Linked DNA regions of Homo sapiens. The protein of the gene in region 2 purifies or fractionates together with the protein of the main gene of each other region. This does not show direct contact. Each region holds a gene or a part of one and is shown on either strand. Other genes may lie near its edges. The genes, in order: C5orf22, CDC14B, ANKRD28, GINS2, PPP1R12A, AHCYL2 and GINS1.

Evidence for each region.
Region 1: the proteins of CDC14B (region 2) and C5orf22 purify together in Homo sapiens (affinity purification with mass spectrometry; one large-scale study listed by BioGRID and IntAct). This does not show direct contact.
Region 3: the proteins of CDC14B (region 2) and ANKRD28 purify together in Homo sapiens (affinity purification with mass spectrometry; one large-scale study listed by BioGRID and IntAct). This does not show direct contact.
Region 4: the proteins of CDC14B (region 2) and GINS2 purify together in Homo sapiens (affinity purification with mass spectrometry; one large-scale study listed by BioGRID and IntAct). This does not show direct contact.
Region 5: the proteins of CDC14B (region 2) and PPP1R12A purify together in Homo sapiens (affinity purification with mass spectrometry; one large-scale study listed by BioGRID and IntAct). This does not show direct contact.
Region 6: the proteins of CDC14B (region 2) and AHCYL2 purify together in Homo sapiens (affinity purification with mass spectrometry; one large-scale study listed by BioGRID and IntAct). This does not show direct contact.
Region 7: the proteins of CDC14B (region 2) and GINS1 purify together in Homo sapiens (affinity purification with mass spectrometry; one large-scale study listed by BioGRID and IntAct). This does not show direct contact.

Annotation. Positions count from the first base shown.
Region 1 is NC_000005.10:31,549,301-31,552,426, forward strand, and holds part of C5orf22 (UPF0489 protein C5orf22), read left to right. Parts: intron 1-1,992; coding exon 1,993-2,132; intron 2,133-3,126.
Region 2 is NC_000009.12:96,617,044-96,621,258, forward strand, and holds the start of CDC14B (dual specificity protein phosphatase CDC14B), read right to left. Parts: upstream 2,801-4,215; 5' UTR 2,336-2,800; coding exon 2,176-2,335; intron 1,902-2,175; exon of another isoform or gene 1,314-1,901; coding exon of another isoform or gene 1,172-1,313; intron 1-1,171.
Region 3 is NC_000003.12:15,675,980-15,679,479, forward strand, and holds part of ANKRD28 (serine/threonine-protein phosphatase 6 regulatory ankyrin repeat subunit A), read right to left. Parts: coding exon 3,497-3,500; intron 3,406-3,496; coding exon 3,322-3,405; intron 2,376-3,321; coding exon 2,230-2,375; intron 1,649-2,229; coding exon of another isoform or gene 1,635-1,648; exon of another isoform or gene 1,584-1,634; coding exon 1,501-1,583; intron 1,078-1,500; coding exon 995-1,077; coding exon of another isoform or gene 991-994; intron 11-990; coding exon 1-10. UniProt on the Homo sapiens protein: Regulatory subunit of protein phosphatase 6 (PP6) that may be involved in the recognition of phosphoprotein substrates. Involved in the PP6-mediated dephosphorylation of NFKBIE opposing its degradation in response to TNF-alpha.
Region 4 is NC_000016.10:85,678,955-85,682,454, forward strand, and holds part of GINS2 (DNA replication complex GINS protein PSF2), read right to left. Parts: intron 2,728-3,500; coding exon 2,628-2,727; intron 1-2,627. UniProt on the Homo sapiens protein: Required for correct functioning of the GINS complex, a complex that plays an essential role in the initiation of DNA replication, and progression of DNA replication forks.
Region 5 is NC_000012.12:79,806,098-79,809,597, forward strand, and holds part of PPP1R12A (protein phosphatase 1 regulatory subunit 12A), read right to left. Parts: intron 2,481-3,500; coding exon 2,386-2,480; intron 1,234-2,385; coding exon 1,129-1,233; intron 237-1,128; coding exon 69-236; intron 1-68. UniProt on the Homo sapiens protein: Key regulator of protein phosphatase 1C (PPP1C). Mediates binding to myosin. As part of the PPP1C complex, involved in dephosphorylation of PLK1. Capable of inhibiting HIF1AN-dependent suppression of HIF1A activity.
Region 6 is NC_000007.14:129,392,530-129,396,029, reverse strand, and holds part of AHCYL2 (adenosylhomocysteinase 3), read right to left. Parts: intron 1-3,500. UniProt on the Homo sapiens protein: May regulate the electrogenic sodium/bicarbonate cotransporter SLC4A4 activity and Mg(2+)-sensitivity. On the contrary of its homolog AHCYL1, does not regulate ITPR1 sensitivity to inositol 1,4,5-trisphosphate.
Region 7 is NC_000020.11:25,410,673-25,414,172, reverse strand, and holds part of GINS1 (DNA replication complex GINS protein PSF1), read right to left. Parts: intron 3,057-3,500; exon of another isoform or gene 2,887-3,056; intron 384-2,886; coding exon 319-383; intron 1-318. UniProt on the Homo sapiens protein: Required for correct functioning of the GINS complex, a complex that plays an essential role in the initiation of DNA replication, and progression of DNA replication forks.

The DNA.
Region 1 (3,126 bases), on a different chromosome or scaffold from region 2:
CACAGTCACCTCCCACCAGGTTTCTCCCATGACACATGGAAATTGTGGGAGTTACAATTCAAGGTGAGATTTGGGTGGAGATACAGCCAAACCATATAATGAGCAAAGCAAAAGAATATTTTGGTGAAACCTAAGCAAATCCAAGACTTAAACTTTTTTGTTTAACTTTTTTTTTTTTCCCCTGGGAGCATATATTCAAATTGCCCTGAATAAACACTTCCAAGACTTACACTTTTTAAAAATGGTAATTAAGAAGATCGTTATAAGATACTTAAGGTTTGAAAATGTTTTGAGGCCAGGAGCAGTGGCTCATACCTGTAATCCCAGCACTTTGGGAGGCCAAGGCAGGTAAATCGCTTGAGCCCAGGAATTTGAGACCAGCCTGGGCAACATGGCAAAACCCCATCTCTACAAAAAATACAAAAATTAGCCAGGTGTGGTGGTGCACACCTGTAGTCCCAGCTACTTGAGAGGCTGAGGCAGGAGGATTGCTTGAGCCTGGGTGGTTACAATGAGTTGAGATCCTGCCATTGGACTCCAGCCTGGGCAACAGAGTGAGACTTTGTGTCAAATTTAAAAAGAGAAAGAAAATGCTTTGAATTCATACAATATTATCAAATATGTCTGCAGGCAGGTCTGCTTTAATCATTACATTGCATCTGGGTTTTTTTCGTTGGGTGGGTTTGATGTTTTTTGGGGGGCAGGGAATGGCTAGGGCTCAGTCACAGATTATGTAATCCATTATGATATGCCCTACAGCTGCAGAGATAGAACGCTAAATAGTTTTATCATTTTGGCAAAATGAACATCCAGAATTCATCCTTTTATCACACTGACTGATCATTGCCAGTTAAATTGTTGATGTGTATCCAAAGCCTCCAATAAAATATTTGATTAGTGTGTTTTTTCATACTTTGCACTTGCGTACTCTAGGCAAAACTATGACATAGTTAAGTTCCAGTTTTCAAAACATTAAAGTTAAGGTTGCAGAATGGTAGCATGTGAGCCACTTCTAACTTTCAGGCAAGTTTAGTGTAGTGCTAAGACTAGAACATATTCCATTCAAATTTAAAACACATAGGTAGATAGCAGTAGCTTATGGTTATACATAAAGGATACACAAGAAAACAGTTTGGTTAAATAAGGTAGGATAAATATTTTCTCTTGTATCCTCTCAAAGCTTTGAATGTAGTACTAGGTGCACATATTAATATTTAAAAAGTAAGTAAAATAATGTGTTAAAAATGAGATAAGAATATGTACAATTTTTTTTTTTCTTTTTGAGACGGAGTTTCGCTCTTGTTGCCCAGGCTGGAGTGCAATGGCACGATCTTGGCTCACTGTAACCTCTGCCTCCCGTGTTCAAGTGATTCTCCTGCCTTAGCAGGAGAAGCTGGGATTATAGGCATGTGCCACCACGCCCGGCTAATTTTGTATTTTTAGTAGAGACGGGGTTTCTCCATGTTGGTCAGGCTGGTCTCCAACTCCCGACCTCAGGTGATCCGCCTGTCTCAGCCTCCCAAAGTGCTGGGATTACAGGCATGAGCTACCACGCCTGGCCTCAACTTTTTAGAATCTAGATGAAATGGATAATTTGATAGAAAATGTGAATTACCAAAATTGACCCAAGCCCAATGAAGTAGTTAAAGAATTATTCTAAAAAGAGGCATCTGGCCCAGACAGGCATATAGGCGAGTTCTACCAACACTTCAGAGAGCAGATAACTTTTATGACATAGAAACTGTTAAGGAAAAAATAATCCCAATGCATAAAAATATTAAAAATTAAAAGTTTTTCATATTTAAGGTGTTGGATATCCCAGTTACCCTGATTTGATCTTTATATGCTATTATGAATCACATGTACCCTGAAAATATGCACATCTTTTATGTATCAATAAAAGTAAAGATTTGTCAATAAGGCCATTAATGATTAAAGAAGCTTATAAAAACAACTGTCATACAGTGTAATTTTTAATTGTCTTATTTTCAGGTTCACCAGGCTGGTTTAACCTGCGATTATTCAGAACTTCCTCACCATATCAGCACAGAACAAGAAATAGAGTGTCTTATTCAATCTGTGCATTATTTGCTGAAAAATTTACCAAATCCTACTCTTGTGACAATTGCAAGGTAAGTGTGTTCAGCAGAATAATGGCAAATCAGAGATGTGCACATCCTAATCTCTGGAACCTGTGAATATGTTACATTATATGGCAAAAGGAAATTCGCAGTGTGATTAACTCAAGGATTTTGAGATGAGATTATCCTGGATTTATCAGGTGGGCCCAGTGTAATCACAAGGGTCATTAGAAGAGAAAGGCAGGAGGGTCAGAATCAGAGAGAGTGATTCGAAAATTCTACACTTCGGGCTTTGAAGGTGGAGGCCACAAGCTAAGGAACACAGGCAGCCTTTAGAAGCTAGAAAAGGCCAGGGGACAGATTATCCCTGGGATCTTACAAAAAGAATGCAGCCCTGTCAGCACCTTTATTTTAGGACTTCTGACCTCCAAAACTATATAATAAATTAGTGTTGCTTTAAGCTACTAAGTTTGTGGTGATTTTTTATAGCAGCAGTAGGAAACTAATACAATCTCTGTAGGTAAATAACCTGGTCACTAGAGCGTAAAATGAGTTTATCAGTGGTCTTACAGATTATCTCTTTAGGTTTGAAATACTTGTACTAAGGAGTAGGCCAGATAACTAATTCCAGTTCTTCTATAAAGATTTCTGTGCTGCTCTTCTCACTCTGTCCTCTAGAAGGCTTTATTCACCCTTATCCGGAACCAGGAGACACTGGTTAATCCAGTTGTAACTGGCAGCAGCATTGTAACTGCCCAGTGCAACTCAGGTTGCAGTTGGTAAGTTCTGGAAAGACTCCCAAAATACAGATATCTGCCCCAACCTACTTTGCTCTTTTCTGCTTCCTACTGCCTAGGAAAGTAAATCCAACACCAGCACATCGCCACATTTCATTTTGGACCAAGCCATGGATCCTTTATAATTTTGTAGTTAACAAATCATTTTTAGAAATAGGATCCTTTTATCAGTTGGAAAACCTCGACCCTCATCATTTCTAGCCCTAGCACACACATAATAAAAGATGTTCCATCGCTAAGATAATAAG
Region 2 (4,215 bases):
TCCCCTGGAGCTCCCTTACATTAAAGCTGGACCCTTCCGTTATTAGGGCTTGCAATCTGATAGGATTTTTTTTTTTTTTTAGCAGCAGCAAGATTTATTGTGAAGAGCAAAAGAACAAAGCTTCCGCAGCGTGGAAGGGGACCAGAGCGGGTTGCCCTCTGATAGCATTTTTATTTCCTGTAACGCACCCCTCCTCAGTATTCTGCTTGGTTCTATTTTTCTGAAGTTGATTAATTGGTGACTGCCTCACGAAGACTAGCCACATATTTCATCTCCATCAAGAAGAAAGATTTATTCCAATGACTTTGCTGTCACAAACCTTCTGATTGAAAACCCAAATGTTCATCAACAGGGACTGTCTAAATAGGTTAAAAAACATTCAAATCTACATAAACATTTAAATCCATACGTACTTGTTAATGGTTTTATTCATAAAACCGTATGTACATTGGCCTAAGCAGTAATTAAAATCAAGTAAGCCAGTCTTATATGCACCAACTCAGAACAATCATTCTAATAAGAAACACTATGAAAACGGAAAAATGTGCAAAACAACATGTGTGCTACTCGCACGTGTATGGTAGAGAATATATAGTATATATAGTATGCATGCACAGCCTATTTCTAGAAGGCTTCACAAGAAACTGGGAAGAGTAGTTGCCTCTAGAGAAGGACACTTGGAGACTGTGAGACCAACTTTTCTGCACGTACTCCTGTGCACCTTTAGAATTGGAGTTCTGTACCATGTAAATGCATTACTTGTCCTAAAATTAAATCCCATTCAACACAGATCCTTTCAAGAGGTATAAACAATAACGGGCAGAAACTATGTATAGGCCCACCCGTTCCCAGCCCCATCCGTCCTCGGCGAGGCCCTCTCCTGGGAAGGGCACAACGTTAGCGGGACTTGGCTTCTCAGTCTCAGCAGGCTTCACCTCCCGCACACCCCCCGCAGCTACCGGCCGGGGACTGGTACTCAGGGCAACCCCTTCCTATGCCCGCTCTGGTTCCCAAGGGCCATCCACCAAAGCCGAGAAACCCGCTCTGCTCTCAGCTTCATTTCAAAACGAACTTAGTTTCCAGATTGTCCATGAACCTAGAATATTATTTCTCCTAAACGTCTGTGTTTGTCTAAACACTTCCACTTAATGTTCTCGCCACTCCAGCTTACCTGGTTTATCAAAGGCTAGGGGCTGGAAACAGTTTTTAATAACGCCACGCACCGAGGTTGACACATTCCCCGCCACTGAAAACAGACTGCCAATTCCCTCAAAATCGTGGACAGCTCTGCTGTTTACACAGCGTTGCCACATACATCATCACATTTAATGCCTTCACACGCGTCACTGTCAATCCCAGCAAACCTAACAGCTGCCAAATTGGATTTATGAGTCTCCAAGAACAGTCGAATCAGCACTAACAGAACAGCTATCGAAGGGCTGCTTGGCTACCTGCTCTGGCTGGCTGGGATTTCTCAAAAGTGACAACCCGGACATTCGTCTTGCCGGCTGGCTCGAATGCCACCAACGTGACACCTTCCTTCTCGAGGCCCCGGCGGGGAGCGGACCCCGGGAGGCGGAGGCGTTCGGGGGGCGCGCTAGGGGGCAGGGCGCGGGAGGCCCAGGAGAGGGGCTCGGGCTTACGCGCCGGACGGGCAACGCGGCGCCCAGGGTCCCAAGGCTACGGAGCAGCGGGGGTTTGGCCAACGCCAAAAAGGGGCAGCTCCCGTGCCAGGCGCGTTCAGCGCGCTCGGGGAATCCTCAGGGGCTGATTCAGAGGTTGTGACTCGCGCGAGGGCCAACCGGGCTCGCAATCCCTGAAGGCGGAATCCACAGGAACTCAGAAGCAGCCCGCGGGGAGGAGCTGCAGGTTCGAGGCGCCGGGCTGACGCCCGCAACTTAGAAAGGTGACCCTCGGTCCATCTTGCTGGTGGAGGAGGGTGCACAAGCTAAAGTTAAAGCTCGCAGCCCACGCAGCTAGAAACTCGGGGCGGGGGGCGCTCCTCAGGAGCCAGGCTCCTAAAGGGGGTGTGGCGGCCGGGGCGTTTAAGGGGGTGGGGGCGAAGGCATTTCGGCCCGGCCCCGGAGGCCCCGGGCAGCCCGGTGGGAGGTGGGCCAGGGCCCCGCGCCGGGTGCGGCCGTCCGGGGCCCTCCGCGCGCCCACTGGCCGGCTCACCGGTGATGTCCAGGTACACGTCGTCCTGGGGGTCCCGGCGGCGCGGGTCTTGCTGCGTGGAGCTGCGGATCTTCTTCACACCCGGCGAGGTCGACGAGCAGCGCCGCGAGCAGGGGGGCGCGGCGGCCCAGCTCGACCGCCGCTCGCTTTTCCGCTTCATGGAGGCGGCCGCGGCCCGTCAGGGGGCCACGACCATGGCCCCGCGCGCCCGCGCGCCCGCCGAGGCTCCCGCCAGCCCCGCGCGGGCGCTCGGGGCGGCGGGCGCAGAGCGGCGCTGCGGGGACGGCGGGCGCCGGCAGAGCCCGGCGGGAGGCGGTCGCGCAGGAGCCGGAGGAGGAGCCCGGCCCACAGCGCCTGCCCCGCTGCCTCCCGCGGCCGCCGCAGGACCGGCGCCGCAGCCCTCGCTACAGCGCCTCCTGCCGCGGCCGGCGCCCCCAGCCCGCCCCCAGGTGCCCGCAGCCGGCTGGCGCGGCCGAGGCGACGGGGCTGCAGCTGGCGGCCGGAGCTGCCCGGGGTAACCGTGCGTGCCCACCGCGGCCGCGGCCGCTGCTGCGTAGGCGCCGGGGCACAGCAGGACGCGGCTCGTGGGGACCCCAGGAGGGCTGTTCCGTGGCGCTTCATTCACAAAAAAGGGCCCACAACCCTCCTCGGGGCCCGCAGACTGAGGCCTTTCATTGGCCAATGCGGCGTGACGTCACGGAGACGGGGCCTTTCTACAGGCAGGTACTCGGTGACGCCATAAAGAAAACTCTGAGGGCTTCCGCCAATCAGAGATAAAGTGTGCTAGCGACCTTCGCCAGCCCCCCAACTTTTGTTTCTTCTGTGTCCTCCAGGTGCCAGCACCCCAGATCCCAACTTTCTTTAGTGAGTCACCAAACATTTACACAGCCCCACCCTAGTAACTTAACTCCAGGTCTTTGGCATATATATATCTTAAAGTATTTCTTGAATTTCCTTGTAATTCGCGCCAAGAGAAAGGGACTTTTGCCATGGCTGCCAGCTTGGAAGAGGATGGCCTGATTACATTACCTGCAGCTATATAGATTTAAAGTAGAGTTGATTTCAGAACTTAAGTAAAACTATTTAAACAACTACGCTCTATTTATCGACCTATGCCCAGCATTCAAACAGGCCAAGCAAGGGCTTCTTAAGGACCCGATGAAACTTCCGTGGAACCACAATATACCGTGGTTGTTTGCACCTCAGAGTTTCTCATCTCGGAATCCAGCGCCCACATTAATTCAGTAAGTTTATACACTCATTGCTGTGTATACTGAGGTGTCGACAGGTCCGATTATATCATGAAGTATTGAAGCAAGGGGCAAGTTTTGTCCTTAAACTTCTTTATCTGGCACACTGTAGGGTCATATCCTCTTCTTTTTCTACTGGATTAAAATAATGCCCTATCTTCCTGGAACTTAACCAAAAACTGTCATTTTGGAGGGCCTTTAAACAAACGTCCATGGTAGCATCTAAAAGGGTGAGAAGATTGGAGGGCAGTGTTAAGATTTCACGGCCCCAAATTTTACAACATCTGCAAGCTGTCCCTATTTTTCACCAGCACTTGAACGTTTTATCCTGCAGTTCCGCAGTTAACTGCCAGCCTGGGGAAAAGAAAGATGAATTTGAGTCAGTCCCCTTGGAAGCCTCTCAGAAATGCAAATTTTCATAGAGCACCTCAGGAAGGGGCTCTTTGACTTCTATTGTTGTGGGCTTTTACCTTAAGCACGGCTAAATAAGGAAGTAGGGGGGCTGTGTCTGAAGCTAGAGATCAGCAACTCTGTAAGCACTTTTTCTTAAGGTTGGTTCTCCTGTTCACTCTTCCTCTGTTTCCCCTAAGGAAATCAGTGAAGGCCTTAAATTTAAAATGATCTACATGTCTGTCTGTAGGGGCAGCAAAGAAGCTAGAGACGTGGGAGGCTGTGCGGCGCTGCGCAAGTAAGTTTTAGAGAGCAGAAACGGTAGGGTCACAGTCCTTTGTTTTGACCTGGAGGAGGAGGAGGAGACCTTTCAGACCGGCCTAGGGGCTCAGCATTGGAA
Region 3 (3,500 bases), on a different chromosome or scaffold from region 2:
ATGCAGAGGTCTAGGGGAAAAAACATGATACATGTACACATATGTGCATGTGCATGCACATACACATACACACCTGGCTGTCAAAGAGCATTTTTGTCAACTTGTGAAGACCAAGAGGTACAAACTCGAGAAACCTAGTCCTAATAACAAAGATGGGGGCAGGGAGAGCAGAACCTCTGTGCAGTGCACTGTCACACCTTGTCAACGTGTAGCTCGGCATCAAGCTCAGCCATAGGTCCCATCGACAGGTCCCTACCTTCACCCAATCCTTTTGTTACTTTTCTTTTCAATGTTTAAAAACATTTTACCATTGAAATTGCATTCCTCCGTTGTTAAGGAATGAGGCTGGTAAAGATACAGACTATACATTAAAAACTGTAAACTGCAGTAGCATAAATTCTAATAGGCTTTGAAAACAGCTTACAAGCATCATGACTAATTTTTGGACCTTCAAGGGATCTGACTAATCCCAGAACGGGCAACAATATTCTAAGATTTTTATCTTTACTAAACCTCAAAATGGAATAGCAAGGGACAATGAGAGACACTGATGTAAGATCTCTGTCAGTCTATCTGGAGGTTGGCTGCTCACATTATTAAAAATTTTGATTCTTTAAGAAACCTTATTGGCTTACAGACACACATAAAGCTTCTTACCTCATTTATTGTTAGTTTCAAGTAACATATTATTACAGTTGATTTCCACAGAATACACAAAATAGTACTACTTTCCTTCAGAAAATTAGGTAGGTGGATTAAGGAAAAAAATACATTATTGTCAATGTTATAATAAAATTTCAGTTCAAAAGCATTTTAAATAATATGGCTTTTAGTTGTGATCATTTTAGAAATGAGTTTTGACAGTTGTAAAACTATTAAAATTGCTTCTATGACTAATGAAACCTATTCCAATAGTCACATGTTTAAAAAAATCCATTTATCATTTTTATAATTATAGGTCACAAAGTTTATACTAGATACTGACAGTACTCACGTTTGCAAGGCTGCGTTGGTTGCATTGATGAGGTTTCTATCTGTTATCTTTTCCAGTATTAACAAGGCACTAGTTTCATGACCCTATAATTGTGGCAGATAAGTTATAAAAACTTGAGCACCATTAAAGATACATTTATACACCCAACAATCTGCAATCCTAGTCCATATATTATGTACAACACCATACATATACCATGAATTTTCCTGGCTAATATCTTAATATTTGCCCAAACACATCTTGGGAGTGAGGGTAGGAGAAGAGGACAAAATTAAGATTAAGGAAAGAGGATAATTATGCTTAGACTTGTGTTCCAAAACTTATTTGGCTTACTGGAGACTTTGATACGCCATGGTGCCTTATAAGTCAATTTTGTTCAAGAAATCTAATACCAGTGATCATTAGAGAGGTTTGGTCCTGAGTTGTTCATTTTAGTGAAGTCAAAAAACTTTTAAGGTCACTGTTAATATTAACAATGGAAACATATTCTTAAGATGTATACATACCTTGCTACAAGCCAAATGGAGGGCAGTATTTTTACTGTTATCTTGTAAAGTCAGTTCTGCACTAGCACTGCTAACCAGCATCTCTGGGAGGAAAAAGTGCATCAATTCTTATGTTTATGAACATGTTTCTTAGATTACCAATAACTCACTGTAGAGAAATGAAGATACAAAGCAAAAAAGTCCCTCTCACAAAAACTTAAGTACAAGAAAAATATTGTAATATATAACATATATATCTTCATATAATTGTATGAGACAATTATATTGTTGTATAAGTCACACACTCTAACAATGGCAATTAACATTTATTTTGTGACTGTGCACTAAATTTTAAATACTGTTTTATATGCTCTGGATTTAAAGTAATTTATTTAACCCTCACAACAACACACCAAGTAGATACTGTTATTTTTCTCATTTTATAAATGAGAAAACTGAGGCATAAGGTCATTTAGCTGAAAGATCTAGGACTCACATTCAGGCAATCCAACTCCACAGCCAGTGTTCTTAACCACTATGTTATAAGGCCATGGTAAAGTAGACTCCTCAATAGTCAGGGCAAACTAAAACATTGTATCCCTAAATGAAAATGTGGATTGCAAACAGGTAAAAGGTTTTAAGTCTTAGGAGTGGTAAGATAACTAGTTGAAGTCAGAAGTCTTGGGATCTAAGTTATACATAAGTGATACACATACTTAGGAAAATACAATTTTAAAGAAGTTTCTTTACCAACTGTATTTGTTTGTCCATTTTCTGCAGCCATCATAAGAGGTGTTTTCCCTGTAGAGTCCACAGAATTGACTTGAGCATTATGGCTGAGCAGCAGCTGTAAACACTCTACATGGTCTGTGAAGGCGGCTGCATGGAGAGGAGTTCTGTGATAAAGAAAAATTGAAATATATGACTAAATTTGAATGTTATATATGCTGGAAAAATATTCTTTAATTTGTGACATGCTGTTTTTAAGGGTTTACATATTAGGCTACAAAAGCACTGCCTGTACACAAACAAATAGGCTCAATGGAGCTTACTAATTTCTCTCATAGAAATTTGTACTTTCAATAATACAGAAGGCTTTAATTAAACTAGAACTAGTATGAAGTAAAGATTAATTACAAAATTGCTAAAATAACATTACATCATTAAAGGAAATTTTGAAAGAAATAAATCCTAATCTGAATACCACCACTTATTACAACTGCTGGACTTTTTTCCAGGCTTTATTCCCATTTAGAAAACTGTTAACTTTGTTAACAATAATCTTTGGGAAACAAATTCGAAAGAGAGGGAAAAATATTTACATGTTAAAATAGTTTAAAGGAGGAAAACTTCCTAAAATCTATAAATAGAAAAACCTTTTATAATGTAAAAATAATTGAGATCTTATAACAATTTATACTCGCAAATATAAAAATCAACTTTTAATAATGGGTTTTCTGTAAATTCTCTCACACCAGCCAGTAGTTAAAATTTATTTCTTATTGAAAATAAAACCTTTTTGGGGGGTAGGGCCCAGACGGGATCTCACTCTGTCACCCAGGCTGGAATGCAGTGGTGCAATCATAGCTCACTGTTGCCTCAAACTCCTGGGCTCAAGTGATCCTCCTGCCTCAGCCTCCTGAACAGCTGGGATCACAGGCATGCATCATCATGCACTTTTTTTTTTTTTGGTAGAGATGCAGGTCTTGCTATGTTGACCAGGCTGGTCTTAAACTCCTGGCTTCAAGTCATCCTCCCACTTCAGCCTCCCAGATTGTTAGGATTATAGGCATGAGCCACTGTGCCTGGCTAAAACTATTTAATACATAGTTGAATTCCTACCTTCCTTTTGAATCTGTGGCGTTCACAATGCTGGCACCTAATGTATCAATTAACATCTCAGCAGCACCTTCGTTGTCATTTATCCTGTGTAAGGTAACAAGGTGATCATTCTCACAGCAATGGTGTATTTCTTAAAACACTCAAACCAAATCTGATTCATTCTGGCTTTACTTACACGG
Region 4 (3,500 bases), on a different chromosome or scaffold from region 2:
TCTGTCTCAGGATAACAGCATTCCGTGCTGCCTAACCTCCATCTACAAGGAATCAGTTTCGAGGGCTGGCTCAAAGGTCGAGTTCTATTGCTCCTCATTTACAGAGTGTTGAGCAGATCTCCCTATTCCCCACCAGGAATCCAGGGCTCACAGCCTAGAGAAGGAAAACGCCAACTCCATGCCAGGTACTGGGCTCAGCACTTTACCTGGCATTTCTATCCTCACAAAAGCCCTGAAGGGAAGGGACTCTCCTGCTCTTCAGAGAAGACAAAAACAAGTTTCAAAAATCACAGAAGAAACTGCAAATTAGTATACAGTGAGCACACCTACACATAGCAAAATTCTGGCTAGAAGCTCAAAGCCAGCAAGGGATGAAGGAAGGCTTTCACAAAGTCGAGGCTCCCGTTGTGAAGTATTTTAAACTAACCTTTGAAGAAAAACTACACGATAAAAGCAGAAGCAAATATTGTTCGTCACTAGGCATTACAGGTTACGCTAGACATTCTCTCCATATGCTACAATTAATTCCTGATGAGTAAGTGGCAAACCACTGGTACAAAATTTATGTAGTGAGTTTTATTTATAAACCCAAACATTTAGATCTTGTGCTCTCAACAGCAGGTTAAAGGACAAAGGACCCCAACTCCTCGTCAGCTGAACTATAGAACAAACGTAAAATTAAGTCCCTTAACCGAATGAATTATAAAACAAGGTTTTTGATAAAAACTACATCCATAATATATTGAACTTCAAAAACAAAAAATGGATAGGCCCCCTCACCTAGCTAATGCCAAATTCTTACCTAGCCTGTTTATAGATCCTCTCCCTTCCAGCTACCATCCCCACCACCACTACAGTCTCTCTCAGGTCCCTCTGAGGCCACATGCCCCTCCCAGGGGCTGGCCACTGCAGCAGAACCTATGCCTCCATTCCTCTGCTCCCATGAATGTACTACACATCCTCAAATATCTCTGCTTGCCCGGCTACACCAGGTCCTTCACACTCTGCCTGAGCATATCAGTTCCTGCCTCACTGCCCTCTCCCCTACCGTCCACCTCCTACAAGTCTGCACTCCCAGCAAACCTCTGTGAGCCCTCTCTGGCACCACCTGGCCTTACTGCGCTCTGATGGACTGTCAAGAGCATTGGTCACACTGAAGATTCACTATAGGCTCCCAGGCCCACATCTCTCCCGCACCACACCAGGAAGCAGGCCTATGGGACAAACGCCACTGCCGAGTGGAATGCTTGGTGCATTGCTGCTTCTCAGCTTTTTATGAAATTCATGGGCTGACTGCAGCCTCATCTCAGCCTAAGCACAAGCCCATGTTGTGTCCCCAACTTTTCCTTTAAATTCAGCAGCGCCATTCAGTGGGCTCCCAGCCCTTCCTGCTGCTCTGCAGCATGCAGTAGTACTAGTGTCACAATTTTTTATTCTAGTTCTGCTCTTGAACCCAGTTAAAGGATACCCGGGGAGCTTCAGAAGCTTGAAATTGTACAAATGACATTCTAAGTATCTCCCAAGCAAAATTATCCACCCTTGTCTGCCTTCTTCACTAGTTTCACTTTCACTCAACAAACATGAGCCGCAGGCATCTCACTGGGGACATATGCATACGAGACCCAGCCCCTGCCCATTTAGAATGGGTACATGTGATGGCACAGCCAGGCAAACAAGAAAATTACAACTGGCAAATGCCATAGCAATGTGTAGAGCTGCCAAGAGTACATGTGTGCTGAACCCAGAAGAGACATGTTATGCTAACCAGCAGAGGTGAGCAGGGGCAGGGAAAGGACAGACTTACAGGGCAGAGAACAGTATATGCAAAGTCAGAATGCTTGAAGAAGTGACAGGGGCCAGTGTGAGCCTGAGCCCTCCAGAAGCAGAGAAAAGAGCTGTAGAGAGGGTGAAAGAGGGAGGAGGAGCACGCACTAGGCTGTACACTGCTTGAACACCACGCTCAGGTAGACGAGAGGGAAGACAGGATTTTAAGCAGGGAGTCACATGGCAGTTCTGCCTTTCAAAGGCCCCTCTGGCTGAGATGTGAAGAATGAATGGAAAGCTGAGCGGAGCCAGTATGGATGAAGGCAAACAAGCTACGGAGTTACTACAGCATGATTTTGCCAGGAAGTGGGCTTTCCTGTAACCCAAGGACAGAGGCAAATGTAAGCCCTCTGGCCTTTCCTGCGAAAGACACAAAAAAACTCAAATCCACCTACTCCAAGGAGAAACAGGAGTAAAGCTGTGCTAAATAAAACACATACATGGCAAAGAATGGCTACTGCCGATTCTGTGAGATGCTGGTGGCTCACACTGGGGTCCAATGTCGAGTGATGTGAGGCAGAACAAAAAGAGCCAAGGGCTTCACCGGGAAGTGGAGAAAAGGAAAAATGAGAGACAGAGAAAGGCAAAGAACAGACAGAAAGACACACAGAGACAGACAGAGTGCACCTGGCAGGTGTGTGTACACAGATGACCTCATGGTCACTGACCTGAGAAACAGGGCGGCCAGTGTTGCCACTTACTGAGGCAATAAGCAGGGAAGCGGAGAGGAAGGACGAGGGTTAGGGGAAGGGCATGGCGAGTCCAGTCTTGGGTGTGGCCTCTAAGAGGTGAGATCTACTTACTGATTTAACAGGAGCTTCGTAAGTTCCATGTAGTAAGGGCTGGGCATTGGGGTAAAAGTTTCTTCCTTTCGTTCATGATCCCTCATCTTCTCCAACTTTTCTGAAATTTAGAAGTTAATACATTTTACCATCATTATAACCAAGATATTTATTAAACCTTCCAAATTTACCAAGTGCCTATATTATCTGGCAAATACATTATCAACTAGCAAATACATGAAAAAACATTTTGGGATGACATTTGTATCATTATCTAGATGATTTGAGGCCTCCTCCTTGAAACTTTCTCTCCAAAAGAAAGGTAAATTTTTGTCGCTGCTTTAGCCTGCAGAAGATATTCCTAAAAACAATGTTAGAGTCAAAAGTTTGATGTTTGTTGTGTTTTGCTTTTGTTTTTTTTCTTTTTTAGGGAAACAGCAAAGTGATTTACCTTTACCGCCTTTTTTTTTTTTTTTTTTTTTTTTTTTGAGAGGGTCTCTCTCATGCCCAGACTGGAGTGCAGTGGCACCATCACAGCTCACTGCAGCTTCAACCTCCTGGGCTCAAGCAATCCTCCCGCCTCAGCCTCCCAAGGAGTAGCTGAGATCACAGGCACATGCCACCATTTATTTTTTGTAGAGACAAGGTCTCACTATGTTGCCCAGGCTGGTCTCAAACTCCTGTGCTCAAGTGATCGCCCTGCCTCAGCTTCTCGAAGTGCTGGGATTATAGGAGTGAGTCACCTGGTCAGTATTAGACCTTTGATGCAATAAGTGATCAAACTAGTCAGTGACTTAAATTTATTTATACTAAGCCTTGTTCAGAAGGGAGCAAGACAACTTACAAAACTAGAGCCACCCCAGCCTGGGCGCGATACAATATCCTAGGGGGGTT
Region 5 (3,500 bases), on a different chromosome or scaffold from region 2:
TAAACAAAAACGCATGCACATACATAAGCACACAGTAGACCTGAGCACAAAATGTATCTGTGACTTACCTGCTTTGTGTGCCTGCTGAGGAAGAACCCGTTGTAATCTTTGTAGTAGTGCTTGTGCTGGAAAGCAGGCTTTTCTGAAGCCCAGCTGCAGAGGTAACTGTTGGTGTTGATGTGGTGCTTGGAACACTAGAACTAATCAAATCATCTTGTCTTCTACCAAAGGAGCAACTAAACAAAAGAGTCATATCTATATAGGATGTGTTTGTATGTGTATTCTATAGTTAATGTCTATACATTATATAAATTACAAGGCTAGAAAAAAAATTTAAAAACTGTGTTCCTAAATACACCACCAGCTCCAGCACCAAGAGTTGCATCTACAACTTGCTAGAGTTTAGAAGATTTCACTTAATTCGGTAGTGTATCATTTTAGTGCCTCCTCCCAACTTTCTCAACAAGACAAAGATGATCTGATATTTCATATTTTTGAAACTATTCCACACCATATGGTCATGCCAGGCTGAGCCTGAAAAACACACTTTGGTTTTGTATTACCCAGGGAAAACAAGACGTTGACATTTTTTTGAAGGAAATTATTTCAGCAATGGGTCAGATACCTCGGAAGTAACCAATGCCTACATGATACTTGTTCACATCTTATTCTTTTTGGTTGCTTTTAGTAAAGAAATTGTTTATAGGGCTTTTTTTTCCTCTTCAATATGATACTACCAACATTCCAACTGAAGGCATTTCCATAGCTCTGAGTTCTAGGGCAAGCCAAATCTTTCCAGATCAACAATGACAACTAGATCCATTAAGACACTGGCCTGTTTAAGTTGTTCTAGTCAAGGAGTTCCTTCTAAAGGAGTTCCTTTTAAATATGTAACAATCCAAAAAACATTTCATAATATTTGAAGCTTAATTATATAATAGGCATAACAAATTATCACCTATCTTTAAATATATATCCTGTGTTTAGAGTAAGTTTTAAACAACAAAAACTCGTATTTAATAAAAACACATATTTGTTTAAAATGATGTTAAACTGAGGGCTCCAAACAAATTGCCTCATATTTTTATAAATGAATACATAAAAACCGCTTAAGAATAGTATTATTACCTTTTATGATACGTTGATCCTTCATTAACTGAGCTATTTTTTTTAAGATCATCTTCCCATTTTCTCCTTGTATATGAACTACTTGTTCGCAAACTTGAAGAATCTCTGTTAAAAGAACACCCTTCAGATTCTGGTACATAATTTTAAAATAGGATTAAGAAAGCGGTACACTAGTAAATATTAGTATAAGCTGAAACTAGTAAAAACCTTTGGGAGGACACTTAGGAATACTAATCAAGAAGATAAAGTAATTTCAGTACTAAGATTATATACCCTAAGGTATAATTTTTCCCCTAAGTATGGGGGAAAATTCAGATATTTATAGAAATATGCTTTTTGATCACAAAATATAAAGTAGGGGAGATGCTTACTTTAACCGCAGAAGATCTACTTTATAGTATGTTATGTGCCGACAAAAAAAATGCTTATTAAAAATATATATTAACATAGAAGACTGCTTATGAGATCTTAGGGGAAAAAAATAAAAAAATTAGATATTATAACATGATTAAAAGTATATTAAAAAGTTATTGGCCGGGTGCAGTGGTTCACACCTGTAACCCAGCACTTTGAGAGGCCGAGACAGGTGGATCACAAGGTCAAGAGTTCAAGACCAGCCTGGCCAAGATGGTGAAACCCTGTCTCTACTAAAAATAAAAAAATTAGCTGAGCAGGGTGGCAGGTGCCTGTAATCCCAGCCACTTGAGAGGCTGAGGCAGAGAACTACTTGAACCTGAGAGGTGGAGGTTGCAGTGAGCCGAGATTGCGCCACTGCACTCCAGCGTGGGTGACAGAGCGAGACTCTGTCTCAAAAAAAATAAAAATAAAAATAAAAATAATTAAATTAAAAAAATAAAATTCTATAAGCTGAAAAACAGGAAGAAACTAAAATATTTAAACAATATTTAAACAAAAATATTTAAAACAAACTAAAATGATTAAGTAAGGGCTTTCCTTCTTCTTTCCCCTTTCCTAAATGTTCCAAATATTTAGAGAACTCATACTAGTTCATGACCTTATCTCCTCCCACTTTCCCCTTACTCTGTTCCAGCCACATCTTCTTTGCTATTATTTCATGAACATACCAAGCCTGCACCTCCTCAGGACTATGTACCTGGTATTTTCTCCTTCAGGAATATCCTCCATCTCTTCCCACAATACATATCCGCACATAATTACAATGCTCATGTATTAACTCTAATGCTAGATAATAAAGATTTTATAGTGAATGCATAAAGCAAATCAAAATAAACTCACCTGTTTTCTTTCTCTTCAATGTCAGATGTACTGGCTAGTCGTCTTGGTATTGTAGGTGCAACATATGCAAGCCTAGTTCCTTTACTATCTTTCTCCTACACAACAGGGAAAAAAATAAGTAAAAATTAATTTGGGTACTGACTATAGGCAATGCTAAAAGTATTAAGAAAAGGTTATTCAATAATTATAATTACATAGCTATCATAGTTTACAGTATTTCAACAATTCCTAGCTGAACTCTAAAATTAATGTCAATCAATAATCAGCCTGTTCAAATTAGTTTTCTTTCTCTTTTAGCCTGGAATCAGATAATATTTTACTAAGAAAGGAAAAAAATTTCTCCAGATTTTAATGACTTTTTCTAAAACTTCTCTAACAGATTAATACTGTGTCATAAGCTGAAATATCTTTATTTCTTCCAGAGAAATAAACTTTCAAATATTGTTCACTGAGAGGTCTCAAGCATTTATATTATATAAGCTATTTAGAACCTTGATAATCAATGCTCTCAAATACATCAAAATAGTCAAAACAAATATTATTTAAATTATATTTATCCAAATATGGCTAAGAGTGTGTAGTGACAATGACACTCTGATACATTCCTAGTAAGCTGGCATAAAATACCTGGAAACCAACTGCACAGTAAACTGATAAAAAAGCAAAAATATTAGAATTACTTGATGAGAAATTTCATCTGAATTTCTGATATAAGGAAACATTTCTAAGTATAGAAAGAAAACTGTATGGGCAAAAAAAATAGTTCAAGCACTGAATATGCTGTAGAAATAAATACTAGTATTGAATAAACTGTGGTACATCCTATATAATGCAGTATTAATACCACCTCTCAAAATAGTTATTAAATTTACTCATTAAGACAAAGTTGCTTGTAATATGGTAGATGAAAAATCTGGTATTTTTTTTCAGATACTGAATAAATGTAACTTATGAGTATACTAACATTCTAGAATAAATGTGTTCCTATGTTTTTTAAACTTCAGAAAGTTTCTTGAATCATAATAAACAAAATAAGCCTGCTCCTTAATACAGTTCTATTATAAATTCTCAAGTAAGGTAATAGATTCCTTTAACGGAGTATAGTCCCATAATTT
Region 6 (3,500 bases), on a different chromosome or scaffold from region 2:
GATTTGAGGTCATAAAGCACAGAAGTGAACTGCCCTCCAAAGAGTGACAAATCCTTTTAAAGAGAGAGGGAAGACTGTTTCACCTTTGGCAGTGCATGGGGGGAAGAAATGGCTGCCACAGATAAGAATAAGAAAATATCAGCTAAACTTTTGAACAATTACGAAAGGCTGGGTGTGGGAAAGTGTGTCAATGTGGAATTTTTTGAAGCTCCAGACACAAGTAGATTTCCCATTCACATGCAGGCTGTTTTCCAGAGGCTTCCACCCAGTGCTCAAAACAAAGACTGGGGCAGGGAGCTGATTGGCTGTGCTCAGAAACAGACATGAAACCTGGGCACTTCCCTACACTCTTCTCTCATAGGAACCAAAGCCTCAAGCTGTAGGAAGAGCAGGAATTGGGCCTGCCATTAGGGACTAGGCAAAGATCCACTGTGTCTGGAGGAAGGCAGAAGCAAAAACTCTGCCTCTGGGAGAGGCACAGGAAAACCTCTTGGGCCCAGGACAGTTCACTGATACAAAGTAAGGATCTGCTACCTCTCCAGCTCTCCAGGAAGGGCAGGAAAATATGTCTTGCCCAAGACCCACCACAGATTCAAGGCAAAGTTTGGCTGCTACAGATAGGAGAGGCAGGAATATTGAGAAAACCCTGCCCCTCACAGAGGTCTGCCTAAGACTGAGACTGCACCAGAGATCCAAGAACCCCACTTGCCCTCACCGTGTGCTTAGCCCCAGGAAACAAAGAGCAGCAGTCTAGTGCGGCAGATGAGGCAGGTACTTGAAAAGAGGACACTTCTGTGGCACACATGTGCAGAAGTAGCTGAAGGCTGAGGGTAAAGCAGAAGCACTGAGGAATGTCCTTTGGTAACCTCAAATCACAAGGTTATAGCAGTCCACTGCTGGAGGAATTTGAAGCCTTTGTTGATATACAATGAACTCTAAATTCAGCCCAATTCATGACTATAACGAAAACTAATATACTACCACTCAATTAAAAATGTCAGGACATACAAAAAGTAAAAAAAAAAACCCACTGTCAGGAAATAAGTAAACAACAGAGGCAGGCTCTCAGATGAGCCAGATGTTTGATCAGACAGGAGATATAAAATAACTATGATTAATATGTTTATGTTATTTATTTATATTTTTTTATACACAGGATCTTGCTATATTGCCCAGGCTGGACTAATATGTTTATGTTAAAGGATCTAGTTGAGAAAGATAGACAACATCTATGAATAGATAGAAAATTTCAGCAGAGATGGAAACAATAAAAAGTCAAATACAGGCTGGGTGCAGTGGCTCAGGCCTGTAAAGGCCAGCACTCTGGGAGGCCAAGGTGGGCAGATCACCTGGGGTCGGGAGTTTGAGACCAGCCTGACCAACATGGAGAAACCCCATCTCTACTAAAAATACAAAATTAGCTGCTTGGTGCCACATGCCTTTAATCCCAGTTATTCGGGAGGCTGAGGCAGGAGAATCGCTTGATCCCAGGAGGTGGAGGTTGTGGTGAGCCAAGATTGCACCGTTGCACTCCAGCCTGGGCAACAAGAGCAAAACTCTGTCTCAAAAAAAAAAAAAAAAAAAAAAAAGTCAAATACAAATGCCAGGAAAAAAAAAAAGTCAGATTAAAAGTTCCTTCAACAGGTTTATCATCAGACCGGGCACATCCAAGGACAGAATCAGTGAACCTGAAGATAGACCAATAAAAATTACTGAACTGAGCCAGGCACAGTGACTCATGCCTGTAACCCTAGCGCTTTGAAAGGCTGAGGCAGGAGATCGCTTGAGGCCAGGAGTTTGAGACCAGCCTGGGCATCACAGCAAGATCTCTTCTCTACAAAAAATTAAAAAAAATTAGCCAGGCATAGTGGTATATGCCTGTAGTCCCAGTTACTTGGGAGGCTGGGGCAGGAGGATCGCTTGAGCCCAGGAGTTTGAGGCTGCAATGAGCCTGCAATGATTGTACCACTGCACTCCAGCCTGGGTGACACAGTGAGACCCTACTCAACAAAACAAAACAACAACAAAAAAAGAAATTACTGAACTGAAATACAAAAAGAAGAAGACTGGCAGAAAAAAATCACAACGGAGTGCTCAAAATCTATGGGGTCTATGGGAGTCTATGGATTCTTTCCCTCTTTGCCTTCTGGAACTCCAGTTACATGTATGGAGAGGGAAAAAAGAGGATCTGGGAACAATGACATTTCAAAAGCAAAGAGCACATTAGTGCCCAGATCCACTAAAAGGAGCTAGGCATTCTGGGAGAAATGGCTGGTTCCAAGAGTAGGGCATGGAATGTTCAAGATGAGCTTAGGTGATCTTGTACCAAAAGCAAGGAAATGTTCAAAGAATGAAAGGGATATATCAAAAGACAAAAGAAGTCACAGAAGCCACACTGAAGAGGCTCTCCCTGGTCAAACTGGGAACAAGATGATCATGTAAATAAGTAATGATAGTAATGGATTATAACCTATTAAATAAAATAGGAAACAATGATTCCATACAAATAAAAATAATGAATAAATCAAAGTAAGATAAAGAATGAGATATTTACAGTTTCATAGTACTATCTCACATAAACATATTAATTCTATTTTTATTTATTTTTGAGACAGGGTCTCACTCTGTCACCCAGGCTGGAGTGCAGTGCAATCTCAGCTCACTGCTCACTGCAATCTCGACCTTTCGGGCTCAATCAATCCTCCCACCTCAGCCTCCCAAGTAGCTGGAACTACAGGCACATGCCACCACACCTGGCTAACTTTTGTATTTTTTTGTAGAGATGGGGTTTTACCATGTTGCCTAGGCTAGTCTTCAACTCCTGGGTTCAAGTGATCTGCCAACCTTGACGTCCCAAAGTGCTGGGATTACAGGCGTGAGCCATCACACCCAGCCCAAAAAACATATTAATTATAAACTGGGAAAAAAACTTTTACAGAGGAAAATCCTGGGAGACACCACCTCAATCAAGGGATTAAAGTGAATATCATCAGTTCTGGGACAAACTGAAATCATGTGTCACCTGATAGGATATATCACTTCCCTGAATTCCCACCATAGATGTATAGCCTGAATCTCATAATGAGGAAGCATCAGAAAAATCCAAATTGAGGAAATTCTACAAAATAATTCATCTGTAATCTTCAAAAGTGTCAAGGTCATGAAAATCAAAGAAAGACTGAGAAACTGTTCTGTACTAATGAAGATTAAAAAGACATGACAACTAAATGTGACATATAACCATGGACTGGATTCTTTTGTTAGAAAAATATTATCAGAACAACAAGCGAAACTCCAGTGGGATCTAAGGATTGGATGGTAATAATGAATCAATGTTAATTTTCTACTTCTGATGGTTATACTGCTAGTACAGGAAAATGTCCTTCTTTGTAGAAAATACACACTAAAGTATTTGGGGATTGCTATGGTCTGAATGTATGTTCTCCTCCCCCAGAGTCATATGTTAAAAACTAACCCCCTAGGCGATGGTATTAAAAGGT
Region 7 (3,500 bases), on a different chromosome or scaffold from region 2:
CTATCGCCAGGCTGGAGTGAAGTGGTGCAATCTCAGCTCACTGCAACCTCCACCTCCCGGGTACAAACAGTTCTCCTGCCTCAGCCTCCTGAGTAGCTGGGATTACAGGCACCCACTACCACACCCGGTTAATTTTTGTATTTTTAGTAGAGACAAGGTTTCACCATGTTGGCCAAGCTGATCTCAAACTCCTGACCTCGTAATCCGCCCGCCTCAGCCTCCCAAAGTGCTGGGATTACAGGCGTGAGCCACCGCGCCCGGCCAATTTCAACATCTTAATTATTGAATTGTTTTAGAATATCATCTTATGAAACTTACACATCAGACTGGTTTTGTTCATACAAAGCTTTCATCTCCTCCAGAACTTGTCTGAGTCCATCCTCCTAGAACATATAAACCGATATTGAAATCCACTGATTTCCCCACCAATTCTGTGGCAATATGCTATCAATACTGAACTGTATCTTTCATTTATATACTTTAGCAAAAAGCAATAGTCCTTTCACACCCCACTAGCATGGTTATAACAAGTGTTGGTGAGATGCGGAGAAACTGGAACCCTCGTACATTGCTGGTGGGAATGTAAAACGGTATAGCCCTGTGGGCAAAAACTTGACAGTTCCTCAAAAGCTACACACAGAATTACCATATGACTCAGTAATTTTACTCCTAGGTGTATATATATACTCAAGAAAACAGAAAACACATGTTTTTTGCAGCATTATTCATAACAATAAAAATGTAGAAACAACCCAAACGTCCATCAAATGATAGATGGATAAACCTTCCACTTATCTGAAAAATCTAATATAATAAAAAGAATGGGTCAAGGGTGGTGGCTCATGCCTGTAATCCCAGCGCTTTGGAAGGCTGAGGCGGGTGGATCACCTGAGGTCAGAAGTTCAAAACCAGCCTGGTCAACATGGTGAAACCCCGTCTCTCCTAAATATACAAAAATTAGCCAGGCGTGGTGACAGGCTGTAATCCCAGCTATTCAGGAGGCTGAGGCAGGGGAAATCGCTTGAACCCGGGTTGCAATGAGCCAAGATCATGCCATTGCACTCCAGCCTGAGCAACAAGAGCGAAACTTCGTCTCAAAGAAAAAAAAAAAAAAAATGAACTACTGACAACATACACAACAATGAGGATAATCTGAAATACGTTATACTGAGCAAGAGATGCCTGACACAAGAGTTTACATGAAATGATTCCCTCTGGCCCTTCACAGGAAAAGTTTGCCAAAAAGAATAATATCATCTGTAGTCAGAGAAAGCAAATTCATGGTTGCCTAAGGCTATAGGTGGGAGGTAGCTACAAAAGGGGGGCAAAGTTACAGAAATCTTTTTTAATTTTTTTATTTTTGTGGGTACACAGTAGGTATGTATATTTATGGGTTATATGAGATATTTTGATAATTACAGAAATCTTGATCAGGGTGCTGGTTATAAAGATGTACATATTAGTCAAAATTCAAAAATCTATTAAAATACACATGTTGTATGTAAATTATACATCAATAAAATTGACGAACAAAGATATCAATCGTCCTACTGAAGCATGAGGTATAAAGAAAAATATGTAAATAATTCATAATTTACTAAAAAATGGTCTTTTTTTTTAGATGGAGTCTCACACTGTCGCCTGGGCTGGAGTGCAATGGTGCAATCTCGGCTCACTGCAACCTCTGCCTCCTGGGTTCAAGCAATTCTCCTGTCTCAGCCTCCCGAGTAGCTGGGATTACAGGCGCCCACCACCACGCCTGGCTAATTTTTTGTATTTTTAGTAGAGACGGGGTTTCACTATATTGGCCAGGCTGGTCTTGAACTCCTGACCTCGGGTGATCCACCCGCCTCAGCCTCCCAAAGTGCTGGGATTACAGGGATGAGCCACTGGGCCCAGCTTAAAAGTGATCTTAAAAGGTTAATACCAAAAGAAAGAAAAAGGAATAGTGTTTTTGGTTTGCACTGCAAAAACCGGCCATAGGAGTTTTTCTAGTATCCAGTTTCGGGCAAATTTTCCCTTGGAAAAATAAAACATTAGAATTCTGATTTTTTTCGTTGTTGTTGAGATGAAGTCTCACTCTGTGGCCCAGGTTGGAGTGCAGTAGTGCGATCTCAGCTCACTGCAACCTCTGCCTCCCAGGTTTAAGTGATTCTCTTGCCTCAGCCTCTCGAGTAGCTGGGACTACAGGTGTGCACCAGCAATGCCCAGCTAATTTTTTTTTTTTTTGAGACGGAGTTTTGTTCTTGTCACCCAGGCTGGAGTACAATGGTGCAATCTTGGCTCACTGCAACCTCCGTCTCCCGGGTCCAAGCAATGATTCTCCTGCCTTAGCCTCTCAAGTAGCTGGGATTACAGGTGCCCATCACGTCCAGCTAATTTTTGTATTTTTAGTAGAGACAGGGTTTCACCATGTTCACCAGGTTGGTCTCGAACTCCTGACCTCAGGCAATCCACCCACCTCAGCCTCCCAAAGTGCTAGGATTACAGGTGTAAGCCACCAAGTCTGGCTAATTTTTGTAATCTTTTTTTTTTTGGTAGAGACAGGGTTTCGCCATGTTGGCCACACTGCTCTCAAACTCCTGACCTCAAGTGATCCGCCTGCCATGGTCTCCCAAAGTGCTGCGAGTACAGGCAGGAGCCACCGTGTCCAGCCCAAAATGATTAAATGTTACCCAATAGGTCTGCCAACAATCGAAAGAGAAGCAATCCCATCTCTTTTTCACTGTCTATTTTTAGGGCCAAAATATATGTGTTGGCAAAAATGCTGTGGCATATACAAATGGCACAATTCCAAAATCAACTACTCAACTCTGCTCAAAAGATGTAATTCCTGATGGAAAATGCAAGCATGACTTCTACCTGAGCCCAAGGTAATTTTCTTACCTTTTCCTTTTTGAGACAGGGATTCAGTCTGTCACCCAGGCTGGAGTGTAATAGCGTGACCACAGTTCACTGCAGTTTCAACTTCCTGGAGCCATGCAATCCTCTCACTTCAGCCTCCTAAGTTGCTGGGACTACAGGTGTGTGCCACCACACCCAGCTAATTCTATTTTTTGTAAAAATGGGGTCTCACTATGTTGCCCAGGCTAGTCTCGAACTCCTGGGCTCAAGTGTTCCTTCCACCTTGACCTCCCAAAGTGGTGGCTGGGATTACAGGCATGAGCCACCATGCTTGGCCTAACTTTCTTAAAAATGTACTTTTTAAAAAAAGTATCAATTCTGCATATAGAAAGGGTGTAATCACTTTTCTGTTTGCTGAACACAGCGCTTAACCATGAGTGATTCCAGAAGAAAAGCCTGTGTGTTGGGCCGGGCACGGTGGCTCACGCCTATAATCCCAGCACTTTGGGAGGCTGAGGTGGGTGGATCGCCTGAGGTCAGGAGTTCGAGACCAGCCCGGCCAAAATAGTGAAACCCCATCTCTACTAAAAATACATAAAATTATCTGGGCATGGTGGCAGGCGCCTGTAATCCCAGCTACTAGGGAAGCTGAGGCA